2 linked regions of the Homo sapiens genome follow. The protein of the gene in region 1 interacts with the protein of each later gene in a biochemical or structural test. Each region holds a gene or a part of one and is shown in the gene's direction. Other genes may lie near its edges. The genes, in order: PAICS and UBE3A.

Region 1 (3,831 bases):
ATTAGGATAAAGGGGTTTTCTGCAGGGATTCAGTCAGTTGCTGGTTGGTCTGTAGTATATGAAATTTCAGCTAGGAAAAGATTTGAACTCTTGCCACACAGTGTAAATAGCCTCATTGCTTTGGATCATTCAACCTACGAAACCTTACCTATGAAATAAAAGCTTTTTCTTTATCATTCTTGCCAATTCTAATTTTATAATTTAATAACTTTCCTTACTTTTAATTCCAATATTCCCAGTTGCCCTTTCATTTCTTAGAGTTTCTGGTAGCACTAATCTTTCTTAAATTCAACAGGGGATTTAATGCTTTTGTTTTCAGTTAAGTTAGATGTACGTGCCTTCCACAAAATAACAAGGTAATGTAATTTAAATACATTGTCAGTGCATTCTTGGCGTAGTTTTGTCTCTTCCAAAGTATCCTATTTCACAATTTTGATTAATGTGAAAAAGATTTAATTGCAAACCTGGATTGTCATCTACATCATAAATTCCTCTATGCTGTGAAAGTGAGTGTATTGCTGTAAATTTAAAGGATCTTCCAGAGTTCCTAAGTCACAGAATCTAAGATTTTTATTTCAAGGTTTCTTGATTGGTAGCTTCCCAATGACTGAGGTAATTTCTAAAGAGAGCATCAAATTAATTTTGGGTTCCTTTTGCAATACCGATAAGTGTTCCATCTATTTATTTATTTTATTTTTTTATTTATTTTAAGTCAGAATCTTGCTTTGTTGCCCAGGCTGGAGTGCAGTGGCACAATCTCGGATTACTGCAACCTCCATCTCCTGGGTTCAAGCGATTCTCATGCCTCAGCCTCCCCAGTAGCTGGGATTACAGTTATAGGTGCACGCCACCATACCCGGCTAATTTTTGTATTTTTAGTAGAGACGAGGTTTTGCCATATTGGCCAGGCTGGTTTCGAACTGCTGGCCTTAAGTGATCCACCCGCATTGGCCTCCCAAAGTGCTGGGATTACAGGCGTAAGCCACCACACCCGGCCTGTTCCATCGATTTTTTTTTTTCTTCCCAAGTTTTAACTCTCCCCATTCACTTAAACATTTTTTAAAGTGCTTAACTCTTTAAAATGTTAGCAGTCAGAAGATTACTTTCTGTGTACCCTTGGTAGTTTCACATAGCTACAGGATTATATTAAGTAATGGAAGATAAAGCCTGACTTTTTATTTGCTTATTTAGTGTATTTTCTGAGTGTATTTACACTCATCCCATTATCCATTTCCAGAACTTTATAACAAGTAAATTAGAGTGACTCAGTTGTGTTATGTTTGTCCAGGACTTTCTGCTTTAATTCTGAAGAGTCCTGTGATCAGGGGAACAGGGAAGGATGGTTACCTAAATGAAATACTCCAATAATTATCTTTAAACTACTTTATTTGGCACTTAACATAGCTAAAACTTAACTGGTTCACAGGAAATGTTGAAAGATATTTTCCAGATTTTATGTCTAGTACTATGAAACTAAGTAAACCTGAATTTTTTAAAATTTCTAAACAGACTAGTTTTAGGGTACATATTAGGAATTCCATTAAACCTTATGTAATTTTTACTTGCTTAGTCAAATAAATGCCTTATCTAGTTGGCCATCAGTGGTCTATTTAAAACTGTTTTCTTTACAACCTGGGTTGTGTTCCAAATTAAGGTAGAAAGTAGAGAGGAAAGAGCATTGGAATGAGAATCAGAAAATCAGGATTCTACTTTTCTCATTGTCACTCAGGAACAAACTGTAAAGGACTATATAAATAAGAAGTAATCTTTTTCCGTGGAAATAGTATAACTGTGTTATAACTGTGTTATACAATTTGTGGATTTGGTTTTATTACTTAAAAATTAAAATCTGGCCTTCTTAGTGATGATGAAATCCCAATTTCCTCACAGAAACTCACTATAATTACATTAAGTGTAATACTAGTATATGAAGAACGGTACTACAGTTGCTAAACCACAGATGGGCATCTGGACCAATCTAAAAGAGGGATGGCCACGGGGACATATGTATTAGCTAGAATTACTATTCTAGCTAATATATGTTCATTGTAATCCAGAGTGTGTCAGTGACATAAACATTTTTTAGTAACCTGAATGAGAGTTTTGAGCTTTGTAGACAACTAAGATAAACAATGGGAATTTTTTTCTCACCATGCACAGTCATGGAATTTGCTTTCATATTTAGCAGTATTAGAAGCCATCATTATGTCATCTAAACTGAGTCTGTTTTAGAAACTTTTAGGGATTTTTTGTGCAGAGATGATTACTGTAGCTTCATTATGTGCTTTTGGTTCTCCTTGGGATTGGCGGGGGGATCTCTCTAAGACGAAGTTATCTTTATATTAAAAACAATAAAATTGGATACTACTGTGTCCAGCTTGGTAGACAAATGAGCAAATATGTGACTAATGATTAACAGATCTAAGAGAGAAGAGCTCTTGAAACCAAGGATGTAGTTACCACCCCAAGTTGAGAATTGATTGAAGTCACCTGTCTATCCATGAGCCTGATCATTCATTAAAAGTTAAACAACAGATTGCATCTAATTTTTTTTTAAAGGTTAAAATGACAGTTTTACTTCCCCTCTTTTCATTTTTTCCTTAGGGTTTCTGTTCATGCAACATACCACAATTCTTTCTTTTTTTCATTTGAGTCTTACGAGTCAGATTCAAAGAGAGGGCAGAGGAAATAGTGTAGGGTTTGGACAGTGCGTTTCAAGTCCAGGCTCCATTACCAAATGGCTACATGACCTAGTGTGTGAAATTACTTCTTTGAGCCTCTGTTTTTTTCACTGTAAAATGTATAAATAATAATACCTACTTCAAGGCCAGGCGCGGTGGCTCACACCTGTAATCCCAGCACCTTGGGAGACTAAGGTGGGCAGATCACGAGATCAGGAGTTCCTGACCAACATGATGAAACCCTGTCTCTACTAAAAATACAAAAATTAGCCAGGCGTGGTGGTGCACACCTGTAATCCCAGCTACTCAGGAGGCTGAGGCAGGAGAATCTCTTGAACCCAGGCGGCGGAGGTTGCAGTGAGCCAAGATCACGCCACTGCACTCCAGCCTGTGTGACACTTTGTCTCAAAAAAAAACCAAAAAAACAAAAAAACCTACCTCAAAATTTTATGCACAGTTAAATGAGACAACATATATAAGACACTTAGCACAGTGGAGGATTTCCATAAATAGAAGCTCCCTTCATGTACAGATACACATATAACAGCAAAGATCCCCAATTCTTTCCTGATAATAAAAGTTAGACTAGAGGATTAGGTTGGGATTGGAAATAGTAATGCAGGCTGAAAATAAGCATTATCTCAAACCCATGTAGGTTTCCAGGAGATATTTTAAATCATGTTAATGCTGTAGCATTACTTTGTACTGTGATGTAATAACACTTCCAGGAGAGGCAATACAGCAAAGTGGTTAAGTGGGCGGCTCCTAGAGACAGGGTAGGTTGGAAATCCTGCTATACCTAATACTAGCTGACATTACTACTGTGTCTTAGTGTCCTTACCTGTTTTGTTGATCTTAATAGTATCTTATCAAATGTTATGAGGATTAAACAAAAAAGATGTATTTAAAATGGTTGGAACAATATCTGCCATAAAATAGGCTCCTGATATTTTTTAAAAGAAAATTGTGATAAATACATAAAATTTACCAGTTTGACCATTTTTAAGTGTCCAATTCAGTGGCATTATGTGCATTCACAATGTTGTACATTCATCCCATTATCCATTTCCAGAACTTTTTCATCATCCCAAACAAACTGTGTAGCATTAAACAATAACTATTCCTCCCACTCCTCAGCCCTTGGTAACTT
Region 2 (3,831 bases), on another chromosome or scaffold:
CAAAAATTAAGGTAGTTAATAATACTATAGTATACTAGTAAAGTTGTCTGACACAGACAACTAGGAAATGTGATTTTTACTTTAAAATGTATTTTAGTTTTAGAATGTCTAAATTTTAGTTTTAGAATTGTCTAAATTCGAGAATTCATAAAGCTGTAGCCCGGTGGAAAAAGTTATTTGACATCTCAGAAATTAAAAATTGCAGAGATTTTGTGTGTTTTTTTTTTTTTTGTTACTGGTTTGTTTTTTTTTTTTAATGTCAGATATGTTTATAGTGTTGGAGAAAGATTCTGCATTATTTAAGCAACTCAGGTGGTTTTCTAGCAGAGACAAAAGGGGGCTTTAACTGCCTGAAGTCATTATTATTGCTTGCTTTCTGGTACCCTTTTTATTTCACTTACATAGTTTTGAGACACATGAATAATTAATACACTTAATGACTGATCATAAGGCAGCCAGCACCTTACTTTACATAGTTTAGCAGAATGATAGGGTATTTTATAAGAATGTGAGTGATGTTTTATGAAAGGTATGTTGAGGTCTGTCTATGACTATCCATTGTTGGAGCAGAACTGCAAATGCCAAAGCTACATACTTTATGTTTGGCTTCTTGAGGTGAGATCCCTTCAGCTGTCTTCATCAAAAGCTATGTCTAGCCTTTAAAAGGCAATGAAATTACACTGTAAGAATCATTCCAGGGTTCAAAAAATTGTCTACCTTCCTTATCTGTCTTTCGCTCAGAAGTCTACTCAGTCTTATTTTCCTCAGTCCCCCATTTTTTTCTCTAGTAAAGCAAGACTAAAAACAAAAGTTTAAGTACTTGGTATATACTTTATTCTATATTTTAAATTCTATTCTAGAATTTTAAGGAAACAACTGCTTTTAAAGCCTTAGGTGTTAGTGTAAAATTAACTGTGAGCTCTTTAATTATGGTAACTTGTTTTTAGCAAGTTCTGCTTAATTATATCAAAATTAGATAATATAGTGTGGCCTATCATAAATCAGGATTCACTAGATAGTATATGTACTTGAATATTGCCAGCCCACAAAAGCAGTTCACTTCAGAAATCATGTGTGTTAGGCAGTTTAATAAACTGTGAAAATAGAAAGAGATGATGCTTACAGAGAAGCTTCCTTAGGGGCTCTGAATGCTCACACTAAGCAGATTTTACTCTTAACTTTCTTTCTCCCTTGCTTTTTCTTCCTTTTCTTTTTTTTAAAAAAATAACAGAATGTGAAAAGACTAGAAAAACCAGCATCGAAATAGGTCTTATAAGTAAAATTGATAACCTGTGTAATTTTTTGAAGTAAGTATTCACAGCAGGTGATGATTATGATAAAGCCACATATTTTAGTAACACATAGTAGAAGTTCTATAATAGAAAGTGGTTTAAGATTATTCTCTCATATGAAAGCTCAAAAGTGATGAATTTTTCAAGATCTTATTTCCCAAGGATCTCTGCTTTTTAAGCCTCATTCTTATATATCACAGTGAACAAACTAGTGGCCACTTTTTTATGACTTGCTAATTTTGGAATTGTATAGCAGGGTTGGGTGGAAAAGAAGAAATGAGAAACTTTGTGGTAAGCTTAATATTGATAAATAAAATTATGGGATCCTAGGCTTTAAGAGCTAAAAGAAACCTTAGAGTTATCCACTCCTTAGTTTAGAAATCAAGCCCAGAAAATAGTGACTTCATATATGAGACTCTTGTATGTTTTCTGTTGAGGAGTGGTAACTTGAATTAATAATTGTGGATTTTTTTAAAAAAGAAAAATATATTCATTGCTTTTATATATTGTGAAATTCAAACCAGACTAGCAGCTTTTTTCCTGAGGTTTTTAGAGAAATTGTCTTTGATGACAAGAGAAGAATTCATGTTGATAGTATTTTCACTAATCTCTGATTGTAGGAAACACTATCATTTTATTACTGCTAAGACAGAAAAATACCAGCAATTCATTGTAAGATGCTATCATTTGTATGGTGTAATCTGATTTCAGAGATAATGTGAAAAAAGTGAATTTTAGAATCAATAGAATATAAGTTGTCTCTTCACAAATACCTTAGAACTGCTTAAGAACACCCCCACCCTACCCGTTTAACTTACTGCCATAGTTCCCCTAGGACTTATTTTCAGTATTTTTTCGTTATTGTTCCTTAGAAAACAGTACAGTGATAAACATGAGCTTAGACTTCACCTTTCATTTGAATGACATTCCTAATGTGATGAGGTTTTTACAAATATGTAAAACCATATTTACAAATTTACATTTTTAATATAAATATGTAATTTAATTTAATATGTAAATTAATTTAATTTAAATATGTAAATATTTACATATTTACAAATATGCAAATATTTACATATTTACAAATATGTAAATATTTACATATTTACAAATATGTAAATATTTACATATTTACAAATATGTAAATATACCCATTTGTGTGTTCTTTTACAAGTAGATAATTTCTCATTTTTCTTAGATGAAGCACTTCCAATGATAGTATGTATTAAGATTTTTTAAATTACTTCTTAAAGGAGAAGATAGAGGTTATAAGTTTATGGAAGAATATAGTATTGCCATCATGAGGTCCCTCAAACTGCCTTCACATCTGAATGGGAAAATTGTTTAAAAAAAATAAATAAATAAATAAATAAAATCCAGGGCCCTAACCTCTAGAGGTTTAGATTAGAAGCTGTATTGTAGAGCCTATGAATCTGAACTTCTGGTAATACTCCACAAATATTTTGATAAAGCCAGACTCCAATATTTGGGAAGATGGCCTTTGGTTCAGCTCAGGTGGGGGTGTGTGTGCATGTGTGTTTATGTGTGTATGTGTGCATATATAGAGAGAAAGAGAAAGGCCATTTTGATATACAAGTATGTTTATGTGTTTTGGAAACTCAGATTTTTAAGAGGATCATGGGGACAGCAAGCTTGGAATAGAGGATGATGATGATGTGAAACTTGGTTCCAATTAGTCAGGGAGTTCTAGCATTTCACATAAATATCTAAAAACCAAAAGGAATGGCTGAGATGTGGAATTGAATAGGGAAGTTCAAAAATAGGAATTAGCACAGATAAAGGTGATTGGCACAGATAAAAAGCCCCACTACCAGGAGGTTCTGCAAAATCCCCTCTAAAAGTCACTGGCCCTTTTTATCTGGTTTCTAATAGCCTAGTCTAACCCAGCTTCCAGCATTTTCAGCTCCCAGCTTCCAGCATTGGTGAACACTCTTACTAGTGAAACATGAACGTAATTCTTTTATTTATTCATTGACTCACAGAGCTTTAAAAATGAGATTATTCTGTGCTGCACTAGGTATGTTTAATTTTGTCTTACACATACACTATATTGTGGTTAACATGTAATTTCCATTGTTCTTTCTTGTGATTTATTCTAATTGAAATCAAAAATGAAACCAAGAAATATGCTTGGTTTATGCCCTCAAAGTAATTTCTCAGAAACTGAATGAGAGAATGAAGCCTATATATACATAGATCCTCAGCATTATATAATAATTTAAGACAATGAAACATCAAACTTAGTATTACATGTGAGGAAAATGAAATCTAAAAGAGATTCCAGCCTACATAAATTAATGGCAGAATTGGAAATAGAAGTCAGGATTCCAGGTCTCATGGACGAACGTGATTATGTGATTTGGTGTTACCCAAACATTTAAACTACATTTGAGATATAACAGACTTTTCTTCATGTGTTTATCGTGAACATGAAAAAATTAATTTGGATAATCTGGAAATCTCAAGCAATAGTTTAAGCCTCAAGTTGACTGAAGTAGTTGAAGCTAGCCTTTCTTTC

Evidence for each region.
Region 2: the proteins of PAICS (region 1) and UBE3A form a complex in vitro, tested with the Homo sapiens proteins (one large-scale study listed by BioGRID).

What each region holds. Positions count from the first base shown.
Region 1 is NC_000004.12:56,442,491-56,446,321, forward strand, and holds part of PAICS (bifunctional phosphoribosylaminoimidazole carboxylase/phosphoribosylaminoimidazole succinocarboxamide synthetase), read left to right. Parts: intron 1-3,831. UniProt on the Homo sapiens protein: Bifunctional phosphoribosylaminoimidazole carboxylase and phosphoribosylaminoimidazole succinocarboxamide synthetase catalyzing two reactions of the de novo purine biosynthetic pathway.
Region 2 is NC_000015.10:25,365,775-25,369,605, reverse strand, and holds part of UBE3A (ubiquitin-protein ligase E3A), read left to right. Parts: intron 1-3,831. UniProt on the Homo sapiens protein: E3 ubiquitin-protein ligase which accepts ubiquitin from an E2 ubiquitin-conjugating enzyme in the form of a thioester and transfers it to its substrates.